Regions from separate parts of the Homo sapiens genome. Here regions 2, 3, 4 and 5 are each reported to be linked to region 1. Evidence: microRNA targets listed by miRTarBase, many of them from high-throughput screens and not tested one by one. Region 1 holds a microRNA gene; each other region holds the end of a gene's coding sequence.
The links. The annotated mature microRNA hsa-miR-4327 reads GGCUUGCAUGGGGGACUGG and lies in region 1 at 3,254-3,272, opposite strand. An mRNA with a match to its seed (bases 2 to 7 or 8) in the 3' UTR can be bound and repressed. Matches are read on the target gene's strand: a 7mer-m8 pairs with bases 2 to 8, a 7mer-A1 pairs with bases 2 to 7 and ends in A, and an 8mer does both.

Region 1 (4,456 bases):
GTCAGTGCTGTAGACCAGATTGCTGGGGTAGGAAAAGCCACGTGAGGATGCTGGGTAGCGCAGGTAGTCACCACAGGAGCGGGAGGAGAAGTTTCCAGAGCAGCAGTTGTAGGACATGTTGACGGGAGATGTGAGTTCAGCTGAGTTATAGTGGAAAGATTCTCTGAGTTTGAATGTCATAGTCTGGACTCCAAGTTATATATGCTCTTAGACCTGGGTGTGTCCACTGTCTCGACACTCCCTTCTCCTTGCTCACTTTTTATTATAAGAATGCTTCCCTAGGTTATTGTTTAATTTATCACATCTTCATATACTTACTTGTACTTTAGTCACTCTGGAACACTTAGAAGGAAGCCACTCAGTTTTTTTTTTTCCTGGAATTCACTGTGGTTTGACCTTCAATGTTATATGTCATCACATTTATGAGTATCTTGCCTCTTATTATTTGAGTACAGTGAGTCCTTATTGTACCAAATGGAATTACACAAAATTCTTTCTTTACTTCCCTTAAGTTATCAGGAGCATCAGTGGTTACTACTCAAAATAGATTGTCCTTCTTTTTAACACAAGCATATTATTTGTTACCAGAAACGGAGGATTTCTCCAAATACTAACTGTATTCAGTAGCCTCAGCAATCTGTCAGTTAAACCTTTTACTAGTACCTTAAGAGCTCAGGATCAGAACTGAGGAGTGCAGCATTATGTTGGGTGTCCATATCAGGCATCTTCCTTAACAAGAGGCTACTTTAGACAATGCTCACTTAGGAAACAATAAACACAAACTTTTTAGTAAGACTTTAAATTGAAGTTTTTCAGATATTTTCTGATGAACCTATCTTGTAGCAAGCACTATTCTATGGTTATGCTCTAAATCAACTCATAAATTTTATTTTGTTTTATGTTTCAATTTTTTTTTCTGGATAAAAGGACAGATTCTTAGCTGCAATTATTAATTTATACTTAAACTTTGAGGAATTGTTAACATTTTTCTGAAGCTTTTAACTTGAAGTATTAGAGTTATATGGGTCTTTAAACATCCCCTGTTCAACCCATACATGGAAAAATTACCTCTCAGAGAGCTTTAACTTTCCCCTAATTTCTCAGTAAGATAGAAGCAAAATTGAAGCTTTAATTATGGTTTTCTTATTCAGAGTCAAGTTGCAAATACCTTGCAAATATAAAAGTAAATTCAACTTTAACTTGTCTCAGAAAAGAAACTATTAAGCTTATTTATACTAAGATATAAAAGCCTAACAAAGCCTTATTTACTTTTCCTAACAATATTCACACTGAATAGTGTTCAACTGGGGAATTCTATGCCTTACTGATCTTCATACATTTGAAGTATATTTCACTTCCTAGCCCAAGAAAGAGAAAGAATATTGGTAATCCATGTTTAGATTAATGGGGGGAAGAGGCTTCTTATCTGTGTCTATTCTTCTTCTTTTGAATTTGACATTTTATTTGGTTTAACTAAGGGAAATGGCATTCACAATGGTTATCGAAAAGAGAGCCTCTTAACTACCTGAAAATTAACTTCCTTCATTCCAAAGCACACTGTTTCAGAGCACTTAGTTACTTTGTTTTATGATTATCTCTCCCATGCAGAATCCAAAGTGTGGCATGCATCACATGAAGTGCCCTTGTGCAATACTTAAACCATCACTCTGATTCACTGAAGTAAAATAAGCTGTGCTTTATGAATGGACACCTATTAAATTCACCAAAAAGTATGCACCACCCCCAACACATGGGATTCCTTATAATGGCAGCTTTTAACACCTTTAAAATGAGAAATATTTTTCTTTTCTTACTACAGGTTGATTCTGCTCAAAAAAAAGAAAACAAAAAACTTACTAATATCCAAAAGTTCTTGCCTTTCTAGACCAGCTCCCTATGTCTGGGAATAAACACTAAAATAACTTGGGAGTAAGTCAGTTCCAATTAACAGTCCCTCCACCCATTCCTAATTGGGTTAACACTTTTTATTAGGAGTTATTTGTGCACTTTGTACAAATGCTAATGAACAACTCCCAAATGCTAATAAATGTGTCCATCTGAAAGGCAGAAAAAGCAGAACAAAACTAGAGTAGCCTTAACAGTTCAAAAGTGGATTCTGGAACTAATAAAATACTCTACGTACTCTACATACACAGGCAAAGTATTAGTATAGAAAGAAAAATTCACTATCTTGATATGTCAGGGAAAACGTGATATTGAAATCTTTTCTCTCTCTCTCCTTCCTTCCTTCCCTCCCTCCCTCTTTCTTTTTCTTTTTCTTTCTTTTCTTTCTCTGCCTCTCTTTCCTTTTCTTTTTCTTTCTTTTCTTTCCCTCCCTCCCTCTCTCTCTGCCTCCTTCCCTCCCTTTCTCCCTCTCTCTCTTTCTCTGTTTCTCTTTCTTTCTATTTCTTTCTTTCTTTTCTCTTTCTTTCTTTCTTCTTTCTCTTTTCTCTTTAGAAATTTAGGCATAACAACACTACAGAGAATAAAACTATCATTACAGTACACAGTAGCCACAAGTAGCCTATGATCTGAATTACTTGAAAAGTGATTGTTTTTCCAAGTTAACATAGTAATGTAGCAGAAGCTTTAAACTGACAATCTTCTATTGCAATGTTTCCAGAGATTCTTCAAAAGCTTTCAAATTAACCAAATATTAGGCAGTAGTAGAAATAGTAAAAATCCATATATACTGCCCTATACCTTTTTTACTTTCTTTTTTTTTTTTTTTTTTCCGAGACGGAGTCTGGCTCTGTCACCCAGGCTGGAGTACAGTGGTGCAATCTTGGCTCACTGCAAGCTCTGCCTCCCGGGTTCACACCATTCTCTTGCCTCAGCCTCCCGAGTAGCTGGGACTACAGGTGCCCGCCACCACGCCTGGCTAATTTTTTGTATTTTTAGTAGAGACGGGGTTTCCCCATGTTAGCCAGGATGGTCTTGATCTCCTGACCTCATGATCCACCCGCCTCGGCCTCCCAAAGTGCTGGGATTACAGGCGTGAGCCACCGCGTCCGGCCACCTTTTTACTTTCTGTTCACTTTTTAATTTTCTGCCTTCTCTAGACCTAGGAGAGGCTTTTATTGTCTGGTCACTAAAGAGTCTTCATAACAGCTGCTTTACACTAGATTTTATTTTTAAAATTCTCACCCAAGGGGAAATGTATCTATTAAACATTAATGCTAACTATGAAGAACCCACTACTGAGTAAAGGCTTGATGAGAACTCCCTGGACTAACCTGTTCATGGTCTCTTCCCAGTCCCCCATGCAAGCCTACCCAGGCCTGTGGCTTTCTCGGAGGTCATCCGGCCTCATTGTTTGAGACTTTTCCAGGCCCTGGCACCTCCTCTAACTTCACTACAGCTCTTCCTGCTTCAAATTCATCCATTTTATGTCTTCATCATCCATGACTTTCGTTTGAAATAAAAAGGCCAGGCTGGGCGCAGTGGCTCACGCCTGTAATCCCAGCACTTTGGGAGGCCGAGGCAGGTGGATCACGAGGTCAGGAGTTTGAGACCAGCCTTTCAAACATGGCGAAATCCCGTCTCTACTAAAAATACAAAAATTAGCCAGGCGTGGTGGCAGACATCTGTAATCCCAGCTACTGGAGAGGCTGAGGCAGGAGAATCGCTTGAAACTGGAAGGCAGAGGTTGCAGTGAGCCAAGGTCATGCCACTGCACTCCAGCCTGGGCGACAGAGTGAGATTCCGTCTCAAACAAACAAACAAACAAAAAGATTTATAAACAGCCTGCTTACACACCTCTCGGTTCTTCTTATCTCTTCTGAGACCTTACCCTTGCATTTACTGAAAACAAATAGAAAATTAAAGTAAATTCTAGAGTCATTTTCTGGATGCCTAAACTCACAATTGTTACCACGTTGTCAGATTTGCGTTCATCTTTCTCTTTTTTATTTTAAATGTTTATGGATACATAATGTTGCGCATATTAATGGGGTACATGTGATATTTTGATACAGGCACACGATGTGTAATGATCAAATCTGGGTAACTGGCATATCCATCACCTTAAACATTTATCATTTTTTTTGTGTTGAGAACATTCCAAATCTACTTTTCTAGTTATTTTGAAATATGCAATACATTATTGTTAACCACAGTTGCTGTACTGTGTTACTGAACACTAGATCTTATTCCTCCTATCTAACTATATTTTTGCACCCATTAACCAACACCTCTCTGTCCTTTCTTTCCACTACCCTTGCAAGCCTATGGTAACCACCATTCTATTCGCTATCTTACAGAGAGAGACCCCTTGTGGGCCAGTCTCTCAGTCTGATTCTTTTTCATATCTTTCCAAAGGCATCACAATAATGCATTCGTTTTTGCATAGCATTCCAGGAAATTGTCTATACATATATTTATCGGTTTATACCATTTATTGTTGTTTTAAGTTACAAAAATGCCATCTTATTGGATACATATATGTATCTGTAGC
Region 2 (4,456 bases), not on the chromosome of region 1:
GTTGAGCTATTTCAGTTCCATATTTTTGAAGCTGATCCTTCGTTTCAGCCAAAATAGTAGATACAAATCAATGACGTTGTTAAACCTTTTTCTGAATTATTTTATTGCTTTGTAATTTACAAGATTCTTGACATTAGTGGTAGTGTTCACATTTAAGCTGTTATAACAGCCTTCTAATGGTAGACTTTTCTAAGTTTTATTAATTGAAAATGCCCACAAAATGATTATTTTACTGATTCACTTGTAATTCCCCCTTCCTTTGACAGGATATCTATAGAGAAATGGGGTTTGGTCACTATGAAGAAGAAGAAAGCTGTTGGGAGAAACAAAAGAGTGAAAAGAGAGACCGAACTCAGAACCGAAGTCGTAGCCGATCTCGAGAGAGGGATGGCCATTATAGTAATAGTCATAAATCAAAATACCAAACAGATCTTTATGAAAGAGAAAGGAGTAAAAAGAGAGACCGAAGCAGAAGTCCAAAGAAGTCCAAAGATAAAGAAAAATCTAAGTATAGATGAAAGATGAAGAGGCAGAATTGAGAGGCTAACATATTTACTCTTGTCTAACTTAAGAGTGCCAGGAAAGCAGATGCTTAGATTTTGTGTCAAAGCTTGTTATTTTTTTCATACTAGGATTATGGTCTTTAGATTAATACTGATTATATAGAGCACGGAAAGATAAAGAATTGAACATTTTCTTTGTATACTTTTTTACACTAATTTTATTGTTATACATAAATGGTAGTCTTCATTTTTGAAGTCTTACATTTTCACTCTTTTTTTAATGAAGTATTTCATACTACAAAAATACATAAACGTATATATAAAGGGATAATAAATGTAAATATCTGTGTACTCATCAGCCAGCTTAAGATACAGATGTTGTCGACATTTTAGAAGTTCCCTAAGGCCCTCTCCCTCTCAAATAATTATTTGGAATTTTGTGTTTGTCATTTGTCTATTATAGTTTTACAACATACGTATGTATCTGTAAGTGAAATGTTAATTTTGTATGTTTCTGAATTTTATATAAATGGCAAAATGTTTACTTCTGTGACTTTCTTTCATTTTTATTGCTATATAGTATTATATAAATATACTACAACTTATTCATTCTTGATGGACATTTGAGTTTTGTTTATTTGTTTTTGCTGTTGAAACAATGCTGCTGTGAACATTGTATCTAGCAGTTATATTGCTTGATATATTGATAAAATAATGCCAAATTTGTGTTCTGAAGTGACTGTACTAGTTTATACCTCTCTTGGCACTGTGAGTTACCTTTGTTTCATAGCATCTCCAACACTTAAGTTCAGACTTAAAAATTTGCCAACCTAGTGGATGTTAAGTGGTATCTACCTGTGATTTCCAGCAAGATTACTGTTATCTCTGCTCTTCCATGTGTAAGATGTCATTTTTTTCCTGGCTGCTTTTAAGGTTTTCTGTCACTGGTTGTAAGAAGTTTGATTATGATGTGCTTGCTGTAGTTTTTTTTTCACGTTTCTGCTGCTGCAGCTATTTTACCTGTGGGTTTATGGTTTTCATAGAATTTGGAAATTGGGGGGCATTTTTTCTTCTGTTATGGTTTTCTCTCTGCTCCTCTCATGCTTCTCCTGGGGCTCTGATGACTTGGATGTACGTTAGGCCCCTCAGAATTTTCTCCCAGTGTGCTGATTCTGTGCAGCTTTTTAAAAAGCCTTTTTCTCTCTGTGTTTCATGTTGGGTACTTTCCAGTGCTGTGTCCTCATTGTTTATTAATCTTTCTGTCTAAAGTATCTAATTTCCTTTTAATCGTATCCAGGTATTTTTCACCTCCGACATATTTTTAGTCTTTAGAATTTCTGTCTGGGTCTTTATCTCCCATGTGTCTCCTTCACATGCTCATGCCTTCCTCTATTTTTTTTTTTTTCAACATCTGGAGTGTATTGATAATAGCTCTTTCAGTGTGCTTGCCCATTCTGTCATCTGCATCATTTCTGGTCTGTTTCTATTGATTGATTCCCACCCTACCCCAACCCCCACCCTGCCCATATTGGATTGTAACTTCCTTCATTACATGCCTGGTAATTTCTGTTTTTAATATTGGGTGCTGGAGTTCTTTTAAGTATCTTGAACTCTGTTTGGGGACATAAAGTTACTTGGAAACAATCCGATCATTTTATAGCTTGCTTTTAAGCTTAATAAGACAGGACTGGGACAGCCTTTAGTTTAGGGCTAATTTGACCCACTACGAAGGTAATACCGTTCTGAATAATCTTCCTGGTTACACGGTTTCTGCATTCTGTCTGTTGGGAACATGAAATATTCTGAACCCTATTGAGCTCCCAGTTGTATCTCCTGTTCCTTACCTCACATGCATACACTGCTTGGTGTTTAGCTGAAGACTTAAGGGAAACCCAATATTCTGCCCTGCAAATCTTACCTTGGCTCCCCTAAATTCTCTACCCAGGGAGGTTCCCTTCCCTAGCCTTAGTGCCACAGCTTAGAAACCCCATGTAGAAGCTTGCGCAATTATAGGGCTTTCTTTGTTTTCCATCTCTCAGGAGTCACTGTCCTGCACTGGCTTTTGTCTAACATCTGAAAAACTTCCTTGTATACATTTTATATAGGTTTTAATTTAAGGTGGAGAAGGTAAATCGTGCCTCTGCTACTCCATTTTGACTAGAGTGGAAGTTAACTTTGTATTTCCTAAATGTTAATGAGGCTGAGCATCTTTTCCCATGTTTATTATTCATTCCTTATTGCTCTCTGAAAAGCTTGTTTCATGTCTTTTGCCCATTTATATAGTAGTAGATTGTTGTCTTTTTATACTTAATAGATTGTGGATACTAAGAATAAGTTAAGGAGTGCTGTCTCTCTCTCCTTCCCTCTGTCTGTTCTCTTGGAAGAAAAGAAAAACATTTAAATTAATCTGTTCCTTAAAAGCTGGATAGAGCTTGCCTATAAAATTGTCTGAACTTTGCATTTTTTTGTGAGAAAATTTCTTAACTATTGATTAGGTTTCAAAAATTATAGAATTATTAGCCTTTCTATTTCTTTAATGTTAGTCATTTTTATTACATTTTTCTGGGAATTTGTTTTCATTGACGTTTTTATTTTTTGATAGCATTGCGCATAGTTTAGCTAGATTTTTCTATCCTGCTTTGTTGATGAATGTCCTTATGTTTTAGTGTGTCTCATAAACAGCATATAGCTAGATGATGATGATGATGATTATTATTACTATTTTGAGACGGAGTCTCACTCTGTCACCCAGGCTGGAGTGCAGTGGCGCAATCTCAGCTTACTGCAACCTCCACCTCCTGGGTTCAAGCGATTCTACTGCCTCAGCCTCCTGAGTAGCTGGGACTACAGGTGCTTGCCACCAGGCCTGGCTAATTTTTTTTTCTTTTTTTTAGTAACAGGGTTTTCACCATATTGGCCAGGCTGGTCTGGAACTCCTGACCTTCTGATCTGCCCACCTCAGCCTCCCAAAGTGCTGGGGTTACAGGTATGAGCCACTGCACCCGGCCAATTATTTTTAAATCTAATCTGAACTTTAACTGGTTAGTTGAGTGCATTTTTATGTGTACTGATGTATTTGCATTTATTCCTTACCACCTTATTTTGTGCTTTTTATGTTTTTTTCTTCCACTCTTTTTTTTTCTTTTGGAATCAAAAATGTTTTTTAATTCCACCCTCACCCCTCTGCCCCCTCTTCTTTGTTTTGGGGGAATTTCCTTGGAATATTACATCCGTACTTAAAAAGTATAATGTTATATCTTTATCTTCCTCTCTAATTGAGAGTCTTGGAACTCTCCAAGTCACCCCTCTTGCAACTTTCGTGTTAAAATCATTCAGTATTTTAGTTATAGCTTGTGATTTTTCACCTTAAAATTAGACCTTGAGCTGGACTCAGTGGTGCACACCTGTAGTTCTGGCTCCTGAATGGCTGAGGCCGGAGGATCCCTTGAGGCCAGGAGTTAGAGGCTGCAGTGCACTGCGATTGTGCCTGTGACTAGCCTCTGTACTCCAGCCTGGGCAACATAGTGAGACACCATCTGTTAGAAAAAAAATTAGACCTTGTGATTATTACTGTTTTTGTACAGATAATTGTTGGTTTAGATTTACTTTATATGTTAGAAGTGTTTGTTTATTCATTATTATTCTCACATCTCAGACCTTTCACCTAGGATAATTTTCCTTCTTTCTGAAGCACATCTTTTGATGTTCCTCTAGTGACATCTGTTGATGGCAAACTCTTAGTTTACATTTATCAAAAGTATTTTCAATTCATTCTATAAAGTTGATTTTATATGTACATAATTCTAAGTTGAGGTGTGTCTTTTTTTCCCCCAGTACTTTGAAGAATTAGTCTACTATCTTTTTACTTTTGTTACTACTGGGGAGAAATCTTTTGTCATTCCAAATGTCATTCTTTTGGATATAATGTGACTTTTCTTTCTGATTGCTTTTTT
Region 3 (4,456 bases), not on the chromosome of region 1:
CGAACTCCTGACCCCAGGTGATCCATCCACCTCTGCCTCCCAAAGTGCTGGGATTACAGGCATGAGCCACCGTGCCTGGCCAGCGATGCCATTTTCTAGAGAACTATTTTAAATATATCAAGTTTATATAACAAAATTGGAAAATGACGGTTGTGGAGACTAAAATGCAAATCAAGTTAGTACATGGAAAAGTAATTATTGAGCTCATATGGATTTTCATAAATGATAAGAATATTTCTTACTGTCTTCTTTTTTTTCATAGGGGCATTACTCTAGTGTGCCTTAAATGTGATTTCCTAGCTGATTCTTCCGGCTTAGATCGTATGGCTAAACACTTAAGTCAACGTAAAACTCATACTTGCCAAGTTATAATAGAGAATGGTACGTATATATAATTGTGTTTCTTTGATTTTCTGATATTTATTTCAGTACTTTTGATCGGACACCATATGGACCCATGTATTAAATTGATAGTCTCACTCTTCATATATGCTATTGTAAATGTAAAACTCTTTTGATTTCAGTTTCCAAAAGTACCTCAACTTCTGAACCCACTACTGGGTAAGTTTAATTTTCCTTCAGTGCATTTTGCTTTGATGGACTTTAGCACTGTTGTATTTTTTAATGAATCATTAATATTAATATAAATGAAAAATATTAAAGTTTTTTTTTTTTTTTCTTAAAGCTGCTCATTGAAATAGATTCCTGCTCCATGGAGTTCATGCAACCTGGTGCAAGACAAGTTGGAAGTTCCTAAGTTCAAAGTTCTGAAGTATTTTCTCACACAAAGGGCAGTTAAACAGCCAAGTTTATGACACTAGCTCTCATTATTCAGCTCTTTTCAGCTTTCAGATGCCACTACATTGTTATTCCACCTTATCTTTGCGTCAGGTTAACATATCTTAACATATTTTTTTCTCCAGTTGGCTCTCTCCAAAAATGCCTTTTGTTTTTCTCTGCTATACTTGACTTGCCTTCAGAATATTACATTCCAGATAATATGACTGTTCATCTTTTTCTGTCTGTTTTGTCTGCTTTCTTAATTTCTTATAAGTCTTACATGTTTAGGTCAGATAACCATTTTTTCTTCATTCCTTGTTCATTACTGTTCTATTTTTCATATTTTTCAAATGAAGAAGCAACACATAAGTTTCAAAAAATATCCAGGGTACTCCTGGACAGTGTCCCCTTTTGATGGACACAACTGATACCTGTTCTTTCTTTCCAAGAAATGTGAATTATTTGACTGTGAGACGTCCTCTAGTTTGTGGCCTTCAGAAATCAGATCTTGGGGAGAGTCCCTTCCTACCTGACTGACCTCCCATAAGGCTGATGCTGATTTGGCCAGAGATGACCTCAAGGCCCACCAAATAGAGCACAACTTCCCATTGGGAGCTTTGGCTTTTGATCTTAAGCTTATGGGTCGATTCTAACCAAGAAAAGTCCATGAGATCAGTGCTTCAACATCCAGGTTGACGTTTAACCATTTTGGCTGCTGCTCTTTAATTTTCCTCTAGCAGGCATGCAGTCCAAGGAATATCAAAATTCTGATTGTATGGGAACCAAGGTTACTTTCTTGTTCTTGGATAAAGAAAATTTCTACAATTACAGTTCCCAAAGACACAGTTGTTCATGTTATTTAAAGTTTTATCCAGTATTCTAGGAATTTTCAGCAATACTAATATTCTCATTTTTAAACATTTTTTACATTTTATTTTGTTTTATTTTGGTAGCTTGGTTTTATATTGTTTTTAGATCAGTGCTTCAACATCCAGGCTGACGTTTAGCCATTTTGGCTGCTGTTCTTTAATCTTCCTCTAGCAGGCATGCAGTCCAAGGAATATCAAAATTCTGGTTGTATTGGGAACCAAGGTTACTTTCTTGTTTTTGGAAAAACAAAATTTCTACAATTACAGTTCCCAAAGTCAGTTATTCATGTTTTCATTTAAAGTTTTATCCAATATTCTAGGAATTTTCAGCAATACTGATATTCACTTTATTTTTTTTCTTTTTTTAAGACAGAGTCTTGCTCTGTCACCCAGGCTGGAGTGCAGTGGCGCGATCTTGGCTCACTGCAAGCTCCGCCTCCTGGGTTCACGCCATTCTCCTGCCTCAGTCTCCCAAGTACCTGGGATGACAGGCGCCTGCCACCACGCCCGGCTAATTTTTAATTTTTTGTATTTTTAGTAGAGACAGGGTTTCACCATGTTAGCCAGGATGGTCTCGATCTCCTGACGTCGTGATCAGTCCGCCTCGTCCTCCCAAAGTGCTGGGATTACAGGTGTGAGCCACTGCACCCGACCGATACTCACATTTTTAAACTTTTTTTTTAATTTTATTTTGGTAGCTAGGTTTTATATTGTTCTTAAATTTATTTTACTCTATTTTATTTTTCCATCACTTCTTTGTCCCAGATTCATGAAATTTGCTGATGTCCATTTTATGTCTACTTTTGAACTCTTCTCTTTGTGTTTGTTTTGTTCTTATTACAAACTCCAAGACATTTCTTAGAATTGTCTACAGATTTCGTGTAGCTACTTATTGGTAGCTTCTTAATTTCATACTTGTCCAGACCATTAGACATTATTACATGCTCTGTCTTGGGCCTATCATTAACATTAGCTTAGGGATTCTGATTTCAAAGACATAAAGAATTGGCAAAACTCTTCTTACAGAACTTAAAACAAGTTTTAAAGTTACATTTCTATACATCTAATACATAATACCTTCTTAGCCATTAATGTAATTCCTCTGGATAAAGATAATATATTCAAAAAATATTGGGACCAAAAAATGCACTTGTTTCTTGCTCATATATATATAGATGTATATTTTTTTTAATTTCTTGTTTGTTTATTTTGGTTACATTGAATACAGATTTGCTGAACAGTTTTGATGTTATTTTTTTAATAAAATTTGTATTGTTAAAGTGCCTTGGAAATTTCTAATAAATAACTTCATATAAAAGCTATCATATAACTATAGGAGCATTGCTTTGCTCCTAGTTCCGTGGAGCCTGATTGCTTGACCTGCAGACTGAAAGCTTTATCTGCTGAGCACATCTTGTACTTTTTCCTCCAGCACAGTTAAAAGCAAACTATTTACACTTTACTAATTTCTTGAGCAGCTAGCAAAAGCCCCCTTTGTGATCTTAATAGTCATGAAGGTGGGCAGGCTCTGAAGTCATTTGACTCAATATGGGTGTTTTTTAACTCCAAAATTAGAACTGGACCAGGTACAATGTCTCATGCCAGTAATCCCCAATACTTTGAGAGGCTGAGGTGGGAGCCAGGAGTTTAAGACCAGCCTGGGCAACATAGCAACACTCTGTCCCTACCACAAAAAAAAAAAAAAAAAAAAGCTGGGTGTGGTGGCATATGCCTGTAGTCCTAGCTACTCAGGAGGCTGAGGCAGGAGGATCGCTTGAGCCCAGAAGTTCGAGGCTGCAGTGAACTATGATCATGCCACTGCATTCCAGCCTAAGCCACAAAGCAAGACCCTGCTTTAAAAAAAAAAAGAAAATTAAAACTGCTTTGATATACTTTGAAACACTGAAAGCCAGTGTCATTGGCCACTGCTATGTAGTATACTCCTTGCAATTCATAGTCAGGAGTTGAATCCATTAATTTTAATTTTCCAAACAGATTTCTGCTCTAAATGATTTTCCCAAATCTCCAAAAGGGGCTTATGTCATAGTCGTGGACTTGGTAATCCTTTTCTTTCCATACCTTTCTCTAGGATGTTTTGTCAAACACCATTTTTCTACCCATTTTTTTTTTACTTTTTTTATTATGGTAAAATGTATGAAATTTGCCATTTAAAATCATTTTCATTCAGCAGCATTAATGACACCCAACTTTAAGTTTTAAACTTTTTCCCAGAAATAACAACTTATTTGCATTTTTAGCATTGGTCTTCTTTTTATTTACAGATATTTTCTCTGTCTCTATCACAGTTCAAAAATACAGAAAACCACATTCTTGCTATAGCAGTATTTTAGGTAGAGGTACAGTTTTGTGTTCTTCCATAGGATTCTGTTTCTTATACTATGTATCAAGTTATTTTAAAGTTTAATGCTCTGGAAGTTATGTGTCCCATAGCATCACTTTTTTTAAACTTTGTTTAAATAAAACTATTTATGCAGTCAGTACTAAGCTTACTTGTTATAAGCAGTTGAGTTTTAATAGGTGTTAGTGAGTTTTAGCTTGACAATCTGATCCCTCTTCACCTTCAGACTGTTAGTTATTTCACCTGATTCAGAAATAGCCATGTCATGCATGTGTCCTTTTTTGTTTTCAACTGAATAAAAGGTATGGTTGGCTCAGTTTCAGTCCATCACTATTATTATTTTTTAAAAAAACACTAAATGACAAAGACTTAGATTCTTGCCCTTCTTTGTGTCACATTTTGGCAAAACACCTCTTTCAGTCTTTTTTCTTTTTTTTTTTTTTTTGAG
Region 4 (4,456 bases), not on the chromosome of region 1:
AAGTGGTGAGGAGTGTGTCTGGGAAGCGTACCGGGTGCAGGCCTGTGAGGCCGAGTTCCCACGTGCTGGCTCACCCATCCCCTCTCAGACTCCCCCCCAGATCCAGCCCTTCAGCCAGGATGACTTCCTGCGTAGCCTGGAGCATGCTGGGCCCCAGCTCACCTGCATCCTCAAGGGCGACTGGCTGGGTCTCTACAGGTGCGTGGACTGCAGGTGCAGGCAGCTTGAGCCCTCCTTGGTCCACAGGGTCAGCCCCATGGCCCCCCGCCTGTCAATCCCCAGGGTCATCCCCATGGCCCCCCGCCTGTCAATCCCCAGGGTCAGCCCCATGGCCCCCCGCCTGTCAATCCCCAGGGTCAGCCCCATGGCCCCCCGCCTGTCAATCCCCAGGGTCAGCCCCATGGCCCCCCGCCTGTCAATCCCCAGGGTCAGCCCCATGGCCCCCCGCCTGTCAATCCCCAGGGTCAGCCCCATGGCCCCCCGCCTGTCAATCCCCAGGGTCAGCCCCATGGCCCCCGCCTGTCAATCCCCAGGGTCAGCCCCATGGCCCCCCGCCTGTTAATCCCCACAGGCGGTTTTTCAAGTCCCCCCATTTTGATGGCTGGTACCGGCAGCGGCACAAGGAGATGGCCCTGAAGCTGGAGGCCCTGCACCTGGAGGCTATCTGTGAGGCGGTGAGAGAGGCTGGGGGTTGGGGAGGGCCAGAACATGGTGGGGGTGGGCACAGGCCCAGGGCAGTGAGGGGCCTTGCTGACAGTAGACCCCGTCTTGCCCTGCAGAACATCGAGACCTGGATGAAAGACAAGTCCGAGGTGGAGGTCGTGGACCTGGTCCTGAAACTTCGTGAGAAGCTGGTAAGATGCCTCCCAGCCTTGTCCCAGCGCCACCAGCCTGGCACGGAGCTGCGCCTGCCCTGACCATGGCTGCCCCTCCAGGTGCGGGCTCAGGGCCACCAGCTCCCTGTGAAGGAGGCTACGCTGCAGCGGGCACAGCTGTACATCGAGACGGTCATCGGCTCCCTGCCCAAAGACCTGCAGGCTGTCTTGTGCCCTCCCTAGAACAAAGCCAAGGGCCACGGTCCCAGGGCCCTAGGTCTGCCTGAGCCTCCCACTCCCCAGTGGTGGCGGCACTGGGCCAAGCACACGCTCCCCTTCCTTGGCCCCCCGCCCAGACTGCAGGCTCCCCTTCCTGCACCACCATTGTCTCAGCAGTAAAGGCGACATTTGGAACCACAGCATGGCCTTGACCATAGGGGTTCCTCGCAGGCAGAGCCTTGCCTCCTCCTGGGTCCCACCTGGCCTCTGCAGACCTTAGGCTGGGACGGGGGCGGGGACAGGCTGGGAGCCCTTGCTGATGTGGGTGCGTCTACCGTCTGCCCCTCCCGGTGCCCATCTGTTGGCCCCCGACCCCCCTGCGCTGTGTGTGATGCTTCCCTCAGCCCAACAGGCTGCCCAGGACAGGAGGGACCCTCTCCTGACACAGCCCCCGTCTTGTCTGGGGATGGGAGGCTATTTTGCATATAGTCATCAACTTGAGAAAGGGAGAGACCACTTTGCAGTGTGAAGAGCTCTGCTCACCACCCCTGGTGCTCCTCTGGACACCCACCTGCTTGGGGCTGTGGTTTGTTGGGAGGTAGGGGTTGGGCAGGGGGCTGTGTGCAGCCCAGCACCTCTGCTAGGAGAGCTGGCTCAGCCTGGCTCTCGGAGAGCCACAGCACCTTCCTGGCTCCCAGTCCTGGAGCCCCCACCAGGCACCAGCTCCGTGCGTCCCTTCTGGGAGGTGGACAGGGCTCCTGTTGTCCAAGTGTGTCCGTCCATCCCCCACATGCAGCCCAAGGGGCTCTGGACTTCGGCCTGACCCTGCCTCTGGCTGGAGCCTGCATGTCTCCCTTTCCTTGGTAAGGGGTGAACGTCCCTAAGAGCCACCTCTGGGTTGTATGCTCCCCCCGTGACACCTGCAGGCACTGAGGCCGGTGAGGTACGGTGTTGACCCTGCACAGCACACAGTGACGGTACTGTCAGGGCTCCGGACAGCCAAGCCCTGCTCAGCATCACGCACTGTGTGCCCGGGAGCAGGTCCCCTGACCACTCAGACCCTCAGACTCCTCATCTGAGCGAGCCAGCCATGCAGATGCCCGACAGGGTGCTGGGAGGGCCACTCATGGAGACTGGGCTTTGTACCCTGTGAGGCCGGGCGGGTGCTGGCCAGGGGACACAGGGCTGGGGGAGGGACTTTTTCTTTTTTTTTCTTTTTGAAATGGAGTCTCGCTCTGTTGCCCAGGCTGGAGTGCAGTGGCATGATCTCGGCTCACTGCAAGCTCTGCCTCCCGGGTTCACGCCATTCTCCTGCCTCAGCCTCCCGAGTAGCTGGGACTACAGGCACCCACCACTGCGCTTGGTTAATTTTTTGTATTTGTAGTAGAGACAGGGTTTCACCATGTTAGCCAGGATGGTCTCGATCTCCTGACCTCGTAATCCGCCCGCCTCGGCCTCCCAACGTGCTAGGATTACAGGCATGAGCCACCGCGCCCGGCCGGGACTTTTCTTTTTCTTCTGAGGCCCCCATTCAGTCCGAGGAATGTAGCCTTCATTCAGCGCAACGTACTGTTTGTGTTCTCATTGGTGCTCTCAGACCTCCAGCCAGGTGGTGGAGAGCGAGCACTGCCAGCCACTTCAGTGCAGGATGTGACTGAGCCACAAGGACAGCGGGGTCAGGTGTCCGGGCGCCAGGTAGTTCTCAGAACTTGGTACATGTCAACTTGTCCAGCCCAACTGCAGCCCAGGACAGCCTGTCCCTGTTCCCATTCTACAGACAAGACGCGGAGGCAGCCGGGAGGGTGACCAAGGGGAGCTGTTAAGCCCCAGATGTCTGGTGCAGGGTCCAAGGATGTGACCACATGAAACAGAACACATAGAGGCCGAGGTGGCAAACCTGTTCTGTGGCAGGGACAAGCCGGGGACCCGAGGGTGAGAAAGGTCCTGGCCCCAAATGCAGCTTGGGCCTCCTGACTGTAGCACAGGGGGACCAGCCTCCCCACTGAGGGCTTGGTCTCTAGAGGGTCTGCAGAGATGCTGGCACCTCTTGTGTGGGCAGCTTGAATGCTGACCTCCATAAGATGGGGCCTGGGGGGCCAGTACAGGCCCTGCCATCAGCTGCCCTCCACCAGGGCCCTCTGCAAAAGCCTTATGCTGGTGACCAGCCCCCTGAGGACCACCACTTCAAGGTGTCGGGGCAGCTTGGGAAGACAACCCACCTCTCTCACAACTGTGACCCCACTTTGGGGAGCGCACCCCAAGGACCGTGGCAGCATGTGCTTCCCCACAGCACAGTCTCGCCTCACTTGGCTTTCTGAGGGCTGCCGCACAGCACAGAGGGCTGCAGACCCACATGGCTGCAGGGGAGGGGCTTCAGGCTGGTCTCTGAGGAGCCCCCAGGGACCCTGGCCACTGTGTATCCAGAAATGCACAAGCAGATTTCCCTGGAGGGCTCTGGTGAGGCCACATAGTGGCGTGTGAAGGGGGAACTTGAGGGGGGAACCGGGCTGGGTGGCCAGCATTGCCCTGGGCAGAAGCTAAGGCTAAGGTGGGGGGTAGTGTCCCAGCCCCTCTTCCTCAGGGCCTGTCCCCACCTGTGCAGAAGAGGCCTGGGGTGGAATGTGGCCTGGGGTGGATGGGTGGGGGCTGGGCGTGGAGACCTGCCAGCTCCATCTGTCCGGATGCCTCTTGTGGCCCCCCCAGTGTCAGGGCCGCTCTGAGTTGGCTGAGCCTCTGTCCAGGGCTAGGCCATGGCCCTCCCCGCCCCACGCACTCCAGGCCAGGGGCAGTCAGTGAAGAGGCAGGAAGGTCCAGACAGCTCTACCCCTGGCCAGAGTGCCAGCCCCCGCAGGCAAGAGGGCTTGCTGGGCAGAACTTAGTTGGCGAGGGTGAGGACTGCTGTGGTCACAGGCCTCCCGAAGGACAGGGACCACAGAACCTAGAGGGTGGGAAGGGCTGGGAGCAGGTCTGGAGTGGGGCTCGGGGCTGAGGGTGCACACAGGGGGCCTGCTCAGGGACAGGAAGGACAGCTGCTCACCCTCAAGCTTCCTGCTGGCTATTTAAAGACTCCCTTTTAGTCTAGAACAGTGGCCTTCCCACAGTTTTGGTATTAAAATGTCCTTTTGTGACTGGACCTTGTCTTTTCCTTTTTTGATAAAAAGTTGGCAACCTTGTCAGAACCTGGTAATTTTGGGGTCCTCTGCAGTGAAGGGTAGGGTTGCCGTGATGTGGATTGTGGTTCAAGGCCCAAGGGAAGATTTTGGACAGGAACAAGGCCTGGCTGCTTGAGGGTGGGAGAAGGCAGAGACTGAAAGAACTAAGTCAGGCTGGGGGAGTTTGTCAGGATGTGGCGGGGCGGATCCCGGGTGGGGGAAGCAGAGGAGGAGGGGATGCCTGGCTGGGGACAGGAGGAAGCTGACCAG
Region 5 (4,000 bases), not on the chromosome of region 1:
ATATTTTTAGGTTGTAAAATATGAATGGTTAATGTGGAATTAGAAGTTGTACCAAATATTTAGTTGTTTATTTGTGTGAAATAGATATGGAAAAGTGATATATATGAAATAAGTTTTTCAGTTCCTGTAGTAGTAGTAAATAATATTAGATGATTATTAGGATGAATTTGATTGGAATCATTTGAAAGTTATGAATATGACAGTATACCTGAATTACACATGAATGCATAAAAATGATTATGTGATTTTTTTTTTATATTAGGTTTTGGATACTGAAAAGAAGTCATGTAAATAAAATAGACATAAAAAGGTAAAATTAGAATTTACCACATTTCTTTTTTTCTTGTCTGAACATCTCCAGAAGTTGGCATGCAACCTCAATAGGGTTCTCAAATAGAAGTATTTTTCTTCTTCCTCCGCCACTAAAAAAGAATTATAAAATATTTGATATATTTACATACCTATATGGATCTACATCAGCCTGCTTCCTTGTGTGGGCTTGTCTATCAGGTATATTTTTATTCTCCTCTTGTGTTTCTTTGTAGATTTACCAAATACGTATAATTCACAAAACAATATATTTAGTTTTGCTTATGTTTGGATTTTATCAGACTGTATCATACTCTCTGTATTAATTGATGACGTGGCTATTTTCACCCAACATTATTCATTCGTGTAGATGCATGCAGCTGTCATTCATTTTTACTCCTATATAACATTTCACTTTATGTTTATATTAGTTATTTGGTCATTCTACTATTAATGAATATTTAGGTTATTTTCAATTTTTAAAAATACTAACTCTTGTAAATATCCATATACATACTTCTTGGCATGAATGTGCACAAGTTATCCACAGTATGTGCCAAGGAGTAGAATCATATCATCATAAAATTTAATATAATATCAGTTTTTTTCTCAAGTAGTTATACCAGTTTATACTCCTACAAACTGTGTAGAAGAACTGTCATTCTACACTTGCCAGTACTTTATATTGTCAATACTTTAATTTCAACCAATTTAGTGGATGTAAAAATAGAATCTCGTAACTTAATTTGCATGAAGTGCAGCATCTTTTCTTATGCTTACTGGTTTTTGAGTTTCATCTTTGGTGAAATGCCTGTTAATGTCTTTGCCCATGTTTTTATTGGTCTGATTGTCCTTTATACATTGATTTCTATATATTCCTTATATAATTCTTTGTGAGGTATGTGTGGCAGGCCTTCTCCCATTTTGTGGACGGTCTTTTCGTTTTTTGTTTTTTTTTTTTGCGGCATCTCAGTGAGTAGAATTACTTATTTTGGGAATCTTTTTGTTTATGCCTACTTTTGTGTTTTGTGTCTCATTTAAGAAATTATTCCCTGTCATGAGGCTGTAAAGTAATTTAACTTTTTTTTTAAGTTTTGGAGCTTTGCTGTATACGTTTATATTTTAATCCATTGGGAATTGTATTAACAGTTGGTACAGTAATGGTGCTTAGCAAAAACAACTACAAGGTTCTCAGTAGTGAATAACACAAAGTGCTTATTTTTTATGCATATATAGATTGGCTGGGAGTTGGCTGATCTCATCTGGCCTTGGTTGGGTTGGCACTGTTTCATATGGCAGATCTGCTGGGTCAGTTCTGCCCATACTTATCTAACTCTCCTGGGACCAGTGGGCTAGCTAGGGCATGTTCTTCTCATGGTGTTGGCAGAAACTCAAGAGGGCAAAGCCCTGTTTACAGCACATTTACTTATAACCCATTGGCTAAAGTAAGTCATATGGCCAAGCCCAAAGTCAAGGAGAAGGAAACTGTACTCCACCTTTTGTACTTTACATGTGGGAGGAACTGGTAGAATGAATGAAAAAAGAGTATAACTGTAACTCTAGGGAGAAAAGAAAAAATAATACTAATAGACTTTTTTAAAATGGTATCAGATAGAGGCCTCATATCATTCTTATTTTTGTTGTTGTTGTTCCCTTTTTCCCACATGGATAACCAATCTCCCAAGCATTATTTAATTAAAAAGACTGCTCTTTCCCCCACTAACCTGTAATACCCCTTTTGGTATATGTCAAGTTTCCATCAAGTGAAGATCTGAAGGTCTGTTTCTGGGATGTCAGTTCTTCTCCATTTGTCTTTTTCTCCAGTATATACTATCTTAATTACCGTAGCAACACTTGTTACTGTCAGTCATTTTGATTATAGCTTTTCCAGTAGGAGTGATGCTGTATCTCACTGTAGTTGTAATTTTCATTTCTCAAATGACTATGAACATCTTTTCATGTGCTTATTGGCCATTAGTCAGTTTAGATCTCTGCCCATTTTAAAATTAGATTGTTTTCTTATTGAGTTTTAGGAGTTCTTTACGTATGTTGGATACAGATCCTTTATTAGATACATGATTTGCAAATATCCCAATCTGTGGCTTGTCTTATTTTATTAATGGTATCTTTTGAAGCATCAAAGTTTTCATTTTGATGTCGTACAGTTTATCAGTTTTCTCTTCTATGGATCATGCTTTCCGTGTTGTATCTAAGAATTTATTGCCTAACACAAAGTCACAAGATGTGCTCTTATGTTTTCTTCTAAAAATTTTCTAGTTTTAGCTCTTGTGTTTATGTCTATGATTCATTTTGAGTTAATTTTTAGGAATTGTGTGAGTTAAGGGCAAAACTTTTTTTTACATGTAGATGTCCAATTGTCCCAGCACTTTTTTTTTTTTTTTTGAGACAGAGTCTCACTCTGTTGCCAGACTGGAGTGCAGTGGTGCAGTCTCGGCTCACTGCAACCTCTGCCTCCCAGGTTCAAGTGATTCTCATGCCTCAGCATCCCGAGTAGCTGGAACTGTAGGTGTGTACCACCATGCCTCCTAATTTTTGTTATTTTTAGTAGAGACAGGCTTTCACTATGTTGGCCAGGTTGGTCTTGAACTCCTGACCTCAGGTGATCTGCCCACCTTGGCCTCCCAAATTCTGGGATTACAAAGGTGAGCCACTGTGCCTGGCCACCAGCACCATTTTAAAAAAAGACTGCCCCTTCCCCCTGACTTGCCTTCATGCCTTTGTCAAAAATCAGCTGACTATAAATGTATGGATTTATTTCTGTACTTAGTTGTGTTCCATTGACCTCTATATGTGTGTCCTTATACACTATCACAGTGTCTTGATTACTATAGCTTTGTTCTAAGTTTTGAAATAAGGAAGCGTAAGCTGTCTAGCTTTGTTCTACTTTTCAAAGATTGTTTTGGCTACTCTGGATCTTTTGCTTTTCCATATAAGTTTTAAGATCAGCTTGTACATTCTGCAAAAAACCCATGCTGAGATTTTGATAGGGATTGCATTGCATCTGTGGAAAATTGCACATAGAATTCTGATCTGTGAGCATGGAATGTCTCTCCATTTATTTAGATCTTCAGTTTCTCTCAGTTTTGTAATTTTCACTGTACAAGTGTACAGTGTACACTTTTTTGTTAATTTATTCGTACATATTCTGTTTGATGCTATTGAATGGAATTGTAATTTAAACTTTATTTTTAGTTGTTCATTGGTAGTATGTAGAAATAGAATTTATTTCTGTTATTGATCTTGTTTCCCAAGACTTCGAATTCATTTATTAGCTCTAGTAGGTTTTATTTTGTGTGTGCATGTATTCCTTAGGAATTTGTATATGTAGGATTATGTTATGTCTTCCTTTGTTTTTTGAGACAAAGTCTTGCTCTTCTCCCCCAGGCTGGAGTGCAAATGGCGCGATCTCGGTTCACTGCAACCGCGGCCTTGCGGGTTCAGGTGATTCTCCTGCCTCAGCCTCCCGAGTACCTGGGATTGCAGGCATCTGCCACCACGCCCGGCTAATTTTTGTGTTTTTAGTAGAGATGGGGTTTCACCATGTTGGCCAGGCTGGTCTCAAACTCCTGACCTCAGGCGATCCGCCTGCCTCGGCCTCCCAAAGTGCTGGGATTACAGGCGTGAGCCACCGCGCCCAGCTGCCTCTTCCTTTCTAACCTTTCTAATGCTT

Region 2: miRTarBase lists PPIL4 as a target of hsa-miR-4327. The part of its 3' UTR that is shown has no 7-base or 8-base seed match.
Region 3: the mRNA of ZNF280C is a reported target of hsa-miR-4327. Seed matches in the 3' UTR shown: 7mer-m8 at 2,074-2,080.
Region 4: miRTarBase lists DENND6B as a target of hsa-miR-4327. Seed matches in the 3' UTR shown: 7mer-m8 at 2,312-2,318.
Region 5: the mRNA of ZC3H8 is a reported target of hsa-miR-4327. The part of its 3' UTR that is shown has no 7-base or 8-base seed match.

Annotation. Positions count from the first base shown.
Region 1 is chr21:30,372,097-30,376,552 of GRCh38, forward strand. MIR4327 (microRNA 4327) reads right to left here and starts at 3,282; the gene lies at 3,198-3,282. KRTAP13-2 (keratin associated protein 13-2) reads right to left here and starts at 175. Exons shown (of 1, transcript NM_181621.4): 1 at 1-175. The coding sequence starts at 117.
Region 2 is chr6:149,501,515-149,505,970 of GRCh38, reverse strand. PPIL4 (peptidylprolyl isomerase like 4) reads left to right here. Exons shown (of 13, transcript NM_139126.4): 13 at 267-1,476. The coding sequence ends at 518. Among named protein-coding and RNA genes, the nearest start is that of ZC3H12D, 19 kb to the right of the region's middle.
Region 3 is chrX:130,201,222-130,205,677 of GRCh38, reverse strand. It overlaps ZNF280C (zinc finger protein 280C), which reads left to right. Exons shown (of 19, transcript NM_017666.5): 17 at 263-381; 18 at 525-561; 19 at 686-2,971. The coding sequence ends at 701. Among named protein-coding and RNA genes, the nearest start is that of RAB33A, 31 kb to the right of the region's middle.
Region 4 is chr22:50,308,741-50,313,196 of GRCh38, reverse strand. DENND6B (DENN domain containing 6B) reads left to right here. Exons shown (of 20, transcript NM_001001794.4): 17 at 89-198; 18 at 572-674; 19 at 780-854; 20 at 936-4,167. The coding sequence ends at 1,058. Among named protein-coding and RNA genes, the nearest start is that of PLXNB2, 3.3 kb to the right of the region's middle.
Region 5 is chr2:112,227,213-112,231,212 of GRCh38, reverse strand. It overlaps ZC3H8 (zinc finger CCCH-type containing 8), which reads left to right. Exons shown (of 9, transcript NM_032494.3): 8 at 263-310. The coding sequence ends at 295. It also overlaps a transcript of FBLN7 not described here. Among named protein-coding and RNA genes, the nearest start is that of ZC3H8, 26 kb to the left of the region's middle.